Linked DNA regions of Homo sapiens: region 2 is linked to region 1. A link means that fine-mapping ties the variant in region 1 to the expression of a gene that starts in the linked region. Tissue or cell type: tibial nerve. Region 1 holds a variant in brackets; the other region holds the start of a gene. All regions are shown on one strand. Distances are between the middles of the regions.

Evidence for each region. PIP is the estimated chance that this variant, and not a neighbour inherited with it, causes the effect.
Region 2: it holds the start of RDH10-AS1, and the variant in region 1 is the best candidate, but not a certain one, in a credible set for the expression of RDH10-AS1 in tibial nerve (GTEx, PIP 0.57).

The regions. Positions count from the first base shown.
Region 1 is chr8:73,202,137-73,206,301 of GRCh38, reverse strand. LOC107986891 (a long non-coding RNA gene) reads left to right here and starts at 943. Exons shown (of 3, transcript XR_001745719.1): 1 at 943-1,014. The variant C/A (reference allele first, on the strand shown) is at 2,134.
Region 2 is chr8:73,354,508-73,358,672 of GRCh38, reverse strand. RDH10-AS1 (RDH10 antisense RNA 1) reads left to right here and starts at 2,212. Exons shown (of 6, transcript NR_125388.1): 1 at 2,212-2,381.

The sequences.
Region 1 (4,165 bases):
GGAGTCAATTGTGTTAAAACTTCTGACAAACAGAGCTGGGGAAGGCCATGAAGGAAGGGATCTCATGCACGAATGCCTGATAACAAGAACTATCAAGGCCGGGTGCAACGGCTCATGCCTGCAATCCCAGCAAGAGGAGGGAAGATCGCTTGAGCTCGGGAGTTCAAGACCAGTCTGGGCAACACAATGAAACCTTGTCTCTACAGAAAAATTTAAAAATTACCTGGTGTGATGTCTCACACTTCTAGTCCCAGTTCCTCGGGAGGCTGAGGTGGGAGGATTGCTTGATTGCTTGAGCCCGGGAGATGGAGGCTGCAATGAGCTGTGATTGCACCACTGCACTCCAGTCTGGCCAACAGAGGAGACCTTTTCTCAAAAACAAAAACAGCAAAAAAGTAATACAAGACTCTACCAAAACCACAACCTTTCATTGCACAAAGGCCATTGCAACCTTACATTTCAAAAAAAAGAAAAAAAAAAACTTCTGCTGAAGACACTTGCCCAAAAACTTCCTATCCAGCCTCGGACTGGTACCACCTTGTTATTGATCTGTGTGGCCAAGGATAATTATCGCAAAATAATTATATAATCCTCCTTTTTTCTTTAAAAATCTTCCTTTATCTCCCTGAACACACAGTTTACTATGGCACATGTATTCCCATTGCAATGCCCATTCCCAAATAAATGTCATTTTGCTTTAGAGAGTTTCCCTCTGTTTGTTATCTAGGTTGACATACTCTATTAAAATGACACAAATTAAAAAAATAAGAGTGCTGAGATGAATAGGTGTTTTGGCTCTTCACTGAGGGAAAGAAAGACCTGTAAGCAGCCGAGTCCAATTGAGAGGTTAAGTGCAGACATGGAGGTGTGTGTAAAATTCTGTGTGAGAAAACAGGTCAGAGCACCTAATTCTGTTTGTGAGTTACAGGGGAGTATGAACATTTGGAGGAGGCTTTACGAGGTCAAGAAGGTCATTTCAAGTTGTGGAAACACAGCCCATTGGTTGGCTTGAAGGTATGAATATGTGTGTCATTATTGCAGGATTGTGAAAAATTAGTGACTGGGACATCAGCTCTGTATGGGGAGGTGAGAAAGATGGGGAAGGGAGGCAAACAGGTTTTCTTTTTTCTTTCTTTTTTTTTTCTTTCTTTTTTTTTTCTTGAGATGGAGTCTCTCTCTGTCGCCCAGACTGGAGTGCAGTGGTGCCATCTCGGCTCGCTGCACCCTCCACCTCCTGGGTCCGAGCGATTTTCCTGCCTCAGCCTCCTGAGAAGCTGGGACTATAGGTGCCTGCCACCACGTCCGGCTAGTTTTTGTATTTTTAGTAGAGACAGGGTTTCACCATGTTGGCCAGGCTGGTCTTGAACTCTTGACGTCGTGATCTGCCCGCCTCAGCCTCCCAAAGTGTTGGGATTACAGGCGTGAGCCACCGCGCCCAGCCGCAAACATGTTTTATAACAAAGATATGCAGCAAATTTCTTCCTGTTATATTTTAACAGTAACAAAATGCAATTATTTTAACAATAAAAGTGGGAAAGAAAATAATGCAGCATAGTTTTCATGACCACCCTGTTTAGATAAAAGTTCACCTTTTCAAATATTCCAAATCATAACAATTCCACTGGGTCATGGTCCATTCCTGGCCACTGAGCTCCTCATGAAAGTAGAAGTCTAGAAAGTGGAGATATTTCTTCTATAATTACAAATGGCAAGACTGATGTTAACTTATTGTGGCTTAAGAGATGTCTCTGACAGGTTGGGGTGAGACCTTTGAATTTAAAAAAAAATTTATACAAATTAATGGGGTACATGTGAAATTGTGTTACATGTATATAATGCGTAGTGATCAACTCAGGGTATTTAGGGTGTCCATCACCCGAGTATAAAACATTTTTCTTAACTATAGTCACCCTACTCTGCTCTCAGACATTGAATGTATCCCTTCTATCTAACTGTATGTTTGTACCCTTCAACCCACTTGTCTCCAGCCTCTCCCCTCCCGCAGACTTGAATATTTTGTTGATCTTGCAAGGGAAGAAATTCAAAAACACTTCAAGAGAAAATAGAGAGGACAGAGGTTAAAGCTGTAGAAGTCTTTGTTTCTTTACTCTTATCGACCAAATGACTTCTAGG[C/A]ATAAGTGTGTGCTTGTGCTCACACACAGTGAATTATTTGTAGTTATTTACAAGATCACTCTATTTCATAATTGTAAGCTTTCAAATGGACGTTAATGATGAAATTCAAATGCCAAAGGAACAATGCATGTCATAATTCACAGGGCTTGCAGGCCATTCCAGCCTTTATAATTGCTACCCAATTAATGGTGACGCTTAAGCATACTGGAAACAATAGCAGAAAAGAGATTTACTTTTTTTTTGTCGAGGGGTGGGTTAGAGTTTGGGTCTCACTCTGTTACCCAGGCTGGAATGTAGTGGTGCAATCATAGCTCACTGTTGCCTTGATAACTTACTGCTTGGCTCAAGCAGTCCAAGCTGGGACTATAGGCATGTGCCCCTGCACCCAGCTCCAGGAGATTTACTTTGAAAATACTCTTTGAAATAATGCTAAGGCAGCTGAAAGCTCCCTGGGTGGAAAAAGCAGAGTAGGTCCTGGAACTACCAGGACACTTCCTCAGAGAATTTGAGAGATTGGGTGCTTTGATCTCAGGTTTGGCTCTCTGAGCCTCTCCCAGAGGGTGTGTTCTATCCTGCCCTGATCCAGGCCCTGATCCATTCAGAAAGTTCCCCAGAGAAAGCAGTTTCAGAAATAAGAGAGAGACAGTAACAATTCAAGCTTTCTTCTTCGGTGGTTACAAAGAGGAGGAGAACACAATAACCAGCACAGGATGGCTTAATTTTAAACGTTAAAAAGGAGAGAGTGAAAAGCAAATATGAAAACGTATTTCAAATTCCAAGGAGAAAAAAAAAGAGCAGCAACTCCCCACTTCGACTCCTGTGTGTGTTCATGGTGTCTACCCTGCCCAAGGAATCACAGGGCTGTTCATTATTTTGGAAAAAGGAATTTGTTATTGACATATCGATGTGTGCCCTTAACCATTTGGTGGGTTTTATTTTTCAATGCCCCTCTTTCATGTTCTGGAGTTTTTCCGGGACAAGGCCTCTCCATCCTACGGGATTACACATGGTCAGATTCATTTTACATTGGATGACAAATTGCATTTGAATTCATCGGGTTGAAAGGTCAGGGCTGTTCTCTGTTACCCAGTCAGGCTCCCTCAAAGTGTCTCAGTCATGAGAATATGTTGGAATCCCTGGGTACTCCATGCCGCTGCCCGCCCAAACCCTCATGAATACTGAACTCTGCGCCGACTTGGATTCCTAATTGGTGACTCCATCAAAAGGAGGAACCACAGCCAAGGACAGACAAAGTAAACGGCGTGGGGTCGTGTCATTCCTCTCCCACAGTCTGTACTCAGTGGTAACCCAGAATTTTTAAAAAGATCTATTTCCTGAACCCTAAATAGGAGATATTTTCTCCAGGATACTACTTCGTGACAATAAGTGCCTTACCAAAGATATGCCCAGAATTATTGGGAGGGGAATAAAAACGTAGTTCTGTACTATGGTTGTAAAAAGGTTGAAGAATGTTTCTAACCCAAGTAGCCCACAGGCCCAACAGCTTTTATCTGGTAGAGAAGGTTTTGTTCTGCTAAGTTTACATTAATTTGATTAAAAGTGACTGACCCCAAGATGCTTGGTTCTCCTATGAGCACCTTGTTTTGGTCTCTGGGTGGGCTAGGTATAAATGTCATGCTACACACACACGAACGCACATAAGGAGAAAAACCACATCCACTCGGATTCTGCTGGTTTTAAATCTTGTGCCATTCACACTAGTACTGGCTAGAATTTAGTTTTGTACTATCTCTAATCAAATGAGTTTTCATAAAATTTTAATAGTGAAAGGAAATTGTAAATAAAACACTCAGGAAATTTTTTTCAAGTACTTTTGAGCTCTAGCTAACATAGAAACAACATGCAAATTTCAGTCATTTTTTTACCTAAATCATTTAAGACGATTCTTTCAAGTCTTTTGCTAGGCTATATTAATACCAGTTTATTCAGCTAAATAATTACTTACCTCCTCCTTTCTCCAGGTTTCCAGAAACATCTATTGATAATTATGTTAAAAATGATGATATTGGTC
Region 2 (4,165 bases), 150 kb before region 1:
CATAATAGTCATGAATATGGGTCCTGGAGTTGCACAAGTGGGGACTGTGTTTACTCTTACCTCATCTGTTGACTAATTGTGTGATCTTGAGCAAATATCCCCTCGAAGCGTTGGGTTCTTAAAAGTATATGCCCTTGACATGATTGCAAAACACCAATCACACAGAGCATCCACTACTGCACCTGGCATCTAGTGGGTACTTGGTAAATGAGAGCACTAGCTGTTGTGTTATTATTATGGGTGCAACTTAGAGTTGGTCCTGGCTAAATAGGTTTTGCTCACAGAGGCTAAACTATATGCCAAACCTAGGAAGCTTAGATCTGCACACCCCACTTGCAGATCTAAAGCATTTCTTAAGAGAATTAAAAATGGGACCAGGGCCAGGCACGGTGGCTCATACCTGTAATCCCAGCACTTTGGGAGGCCAAGGCAGGTGGATCACTTGAGGTCAGGAGTTCAAGACCAGCCTGGCCAATAGGTGAAACCCCATCTGTACTAAAAATACAAAAATTAGTCGAGCGTGGTGGTGCACGCCTGTAGTCCCAGCTACTCAGGAGGCTGAGGTAGGAGAATCACTTGAACTCAGGAGGCAGAGGTTGCAGTGAGTTGAGATCACGCTACTGCACTCCAGCCTGGGTGATAGAGCGAGACTCCATCTTAAAAAAAAAAGCGGGGGGGGGATACCAGGTTGAGGAATATAGGCGAATCTGATAAACGAGGTGTATTTGACATGCCCACCCTGCTTGTTTCTCTGCAATTTCATGAGGCTGCAGGGGTGGGGAAATGGAAGTTGCCTTTGACCTGACCCATGGCAGCCACTCATGACACAGGGAGTTAGCCTGTGTTCCACAGGATTCACTCCTCTTCTTTTCCCCAGCAACTTGTATCCATATGAGTCCTAAGACCCTCCCCATACAGCTGCCACCTTCCTTAGTGGTGTCCTGGGAAGGATGGTATTTGATGACTTGATAATGCTCAGTGGGTTATCCTCCAAGAGATATTTGCTTTTGAGCTCAGGATAAAGCCTCAGTTAGCTCAAAATAACAAACCTATAAGGATTCCTGTCAGAATCCCTAAGTGCCTGGCACCTAGTAGGTGCTCAAGAAATACTTATTAAGTGATAAATGGAGGGGATTTCAAGCACTGTTGTGAATTCCTGAGGGGCATCCTTAGGCCTGGGGACTTTCCTGGGACCATTCCAATCACCCCACAGAGGGTGCTTTCCTGTTGCAGTTATTCAGAAGGCCCGCCCTGAGCAAGGGCTCCAAACCAGGATTTCCTTCAGGGTTGAGGCCGACTCTAGTGGCAGCTTTAGGCGCTTCCTCGCTTCACAGTGCTTTAGCGCCATTAAAGCTCTGCTTTGGAGGACTGGGGTCCCAGGGGGAGTGAGAGAAAGCTCACCACTTAAGTCATTTATACTTTGGCTGCCCAGGCCTGAAAAAATGCCCTTGGGACTGATCCTGAAGTGCGGAAGGATAAGTTAAATGGCTTAATAGATCCTGGCAGCTTCGGAAAGGACTAATGGCTCAGCATTAATTGGGTACATAGAGTGCAGATGAATCTCTGAAAAGGTATTTCAGATTTGCCCGTTCAGCTTTCACTGGCTTCAAAGCATCACATCAGTTGACTCCCAAACAATGTGGATTATTAAAGAAATATGAATACTCGATATTTGCATCGACCTTCATATTTCTGGTGCTCTTGTTTATCCCCTGAGCAACAAACTGAATACCACTATGTGGCAGGGATTGTGCAGGGGGCTAGAGATAGATGAAGTTCCTGTCCCTGTCCCCACATGCCTTTATTCTGGAAGGCAGAGGTTGGGAATTTGAAAACAATGAGACAGCTGCTGGGTTGGAGGTCGATCCCAGGAAGACACAGAGGAAGGAGGAGGCCGGGGCTCCGCCTGGGTGGTAGGTGGCAGTGGAGGCTTCCTGGGTGGGTGGGGACTGGGGCATATGCCAGGCCTCCAAGGCAGGCAAACAAAGGCTCTGGCCGAGGGAGCAGCATGTGACTCACGCAGGGGGTTGGATGGGGAGCACACATGAGCTGGAGGGAGGAGGAGGGGGCTGGGCGAGGTAGGCAGGAGTCAGATAACGAAGAGCCAATGGGCTGTCAGGGGAGCGTCTGCCTGCACTGTGATGTGACTGTGAGTCACCGCAGGACCGGAACACGGACAGGACATGTGCGGCTCTGGGCTGTAAAAAAGACACCACTGAGAGTACAGAAAACACCTGTGAGAGAGGCTGGCATCCAGGGCGGGAAACCTCTTTTGAGGGCGTGAACCAGGATGTGAAGCAGCATTTGAATTCTTGCTGCTCTCTTCTGGAGCAGTGGGATATTGGGCAGTTCACTTAACCTCTCTGAGCTCCTTCCTCAAGGTGAGGAGAAAATGAAAAGATGTCTGAAAAAGAATATCTCAGGCACTTTGGTTGTAAGTGACACAGAGAAAACCATCTTTTATTTTTATTTATTTATTTATTTATTTTTTGAGACAGAGTCTCACTCTATCCCCCAGGTTGGATTGCAGTGGTGCCATCTTGGCTCACTGCAACCTCCACCTCCCTGGTTCAAGTGATTCTCCTGCCTCAGCCTCCTGAGTAGCTGGGACCACAGGTGCACCACCTTCACCCTTGGCTAATTTTTGTATTTTTAGTAGAGATGGGGTTTCTCCATGTTGGCGAGGCTGGTCTCAAACTCCTGAACTCAAGTGATCTGCCCACGTCAGCCTCCCAAAGTGCTGGGATTACAGGTGTGAGCCACTGCGTCTGGCCCAGAAAACCATTTTGAACCAGCTCAGTCAAAAGGAAGAATTTATGGGTAATCTCCTATTGCCCTGGAAGAGGCAGCGGTATGGAGGCCCTCAGGGTGGCAGAAACAGCTGCTGCAGGAGGCTCTCTCTCCATCCTTCACACTCCTGCTGCCCTCTGAGCACTGGTGCCATATTCCTCCCTGGAAACATGGCCAGCTACTGTTCACACGCCACAGATCACAGAGCTTCAGCACTTTCTGTAGTCTCTTTCTGTAGTTTCTGGTGGACAAATCCTGGAAAGAACTTTGATTGGCCAGGTTGGGGCTGGGTACTCTTCCATTGACCGGTCAGTTTGGACAGTGGGCAAAAATTATCATGACTGACCCAACTCAAGCCTTGTGGCCCCACTTCAGTCAATTAAATATGACCAGGGGAGCCACAGTTTAGAAACTGTGATGGCTCCCACTGAGAACACAGGATTGCAGTGTGGGAAAGAGTATTTCCTAAAGGTATGGGTGCTACGGGGTTGCTACGGGCTGAATGTTTGTAGGCCCCTAAGTTTGATACATTGAAGCCCTAAATCCCAAAGTGCTGGTGTTAGGAGTTGGTGCCTTTGGTGGTGATTAGGATTCGATGAGATCTTGGCTGGTATCCTCAAAATGGGATTTGCACCTTTTTAAGAAGAGGAAGACAGAGATTTCCTCACATACACCAATGAAAGGTCATAAGAGAACACAGTGAAAAGTCATCTATAAACCAGAAAGAGGATCTTCCAAGAACCAAATCTGCCAGTACCTTGATCTTGGACCTCCCAGCTCCAGAATTGGGAAATGAACATCCGTTGTTTAAGCCACCCAGTCTATGGTATTTTTATAGTAGCTCAAGCTAAGACAGAGGTGCAATCCCAGAAAATGAGAGATGCTGGGTAGATAAAACTGGATCAGCATTACAAAACACTTTGTAGATGTAAAACATTATACAAATATTAGATATTGAAGATATTGTTCCCTCTTTGAGAGTGGTACTTCTTTGGATCCATCTCTCTAGTTTCGGTGTGTAGAATAGTTACTGACACATAGTAGGGACTTTGTAACACACGGTACTGAGTTAGTGAATGCCACAGATTGAATTAGTGGATAGTCAGTGGACAGCATAACAGGCAGAGGAGTCCAACTTTATTAGAGATTAGGTTCTAAAGTCCACACAGGCTGGGCACAGTGGCTCACGTCTGTAATCCCAACACTTTGGGAGGCTGAGGCAGGAGGATTGCTTGAGCCGAGGAGTTCAAGATCAGCCTGAGGAACATAGCAAGACTCTGTATCTATTAAAAAAAAATGTGAAAATTATTTTAAAATTAGCCGAGTATGGTGGTGCACACCTGAAAAGTTCCAGCTGCTAGAGAGGCTGAGGCAG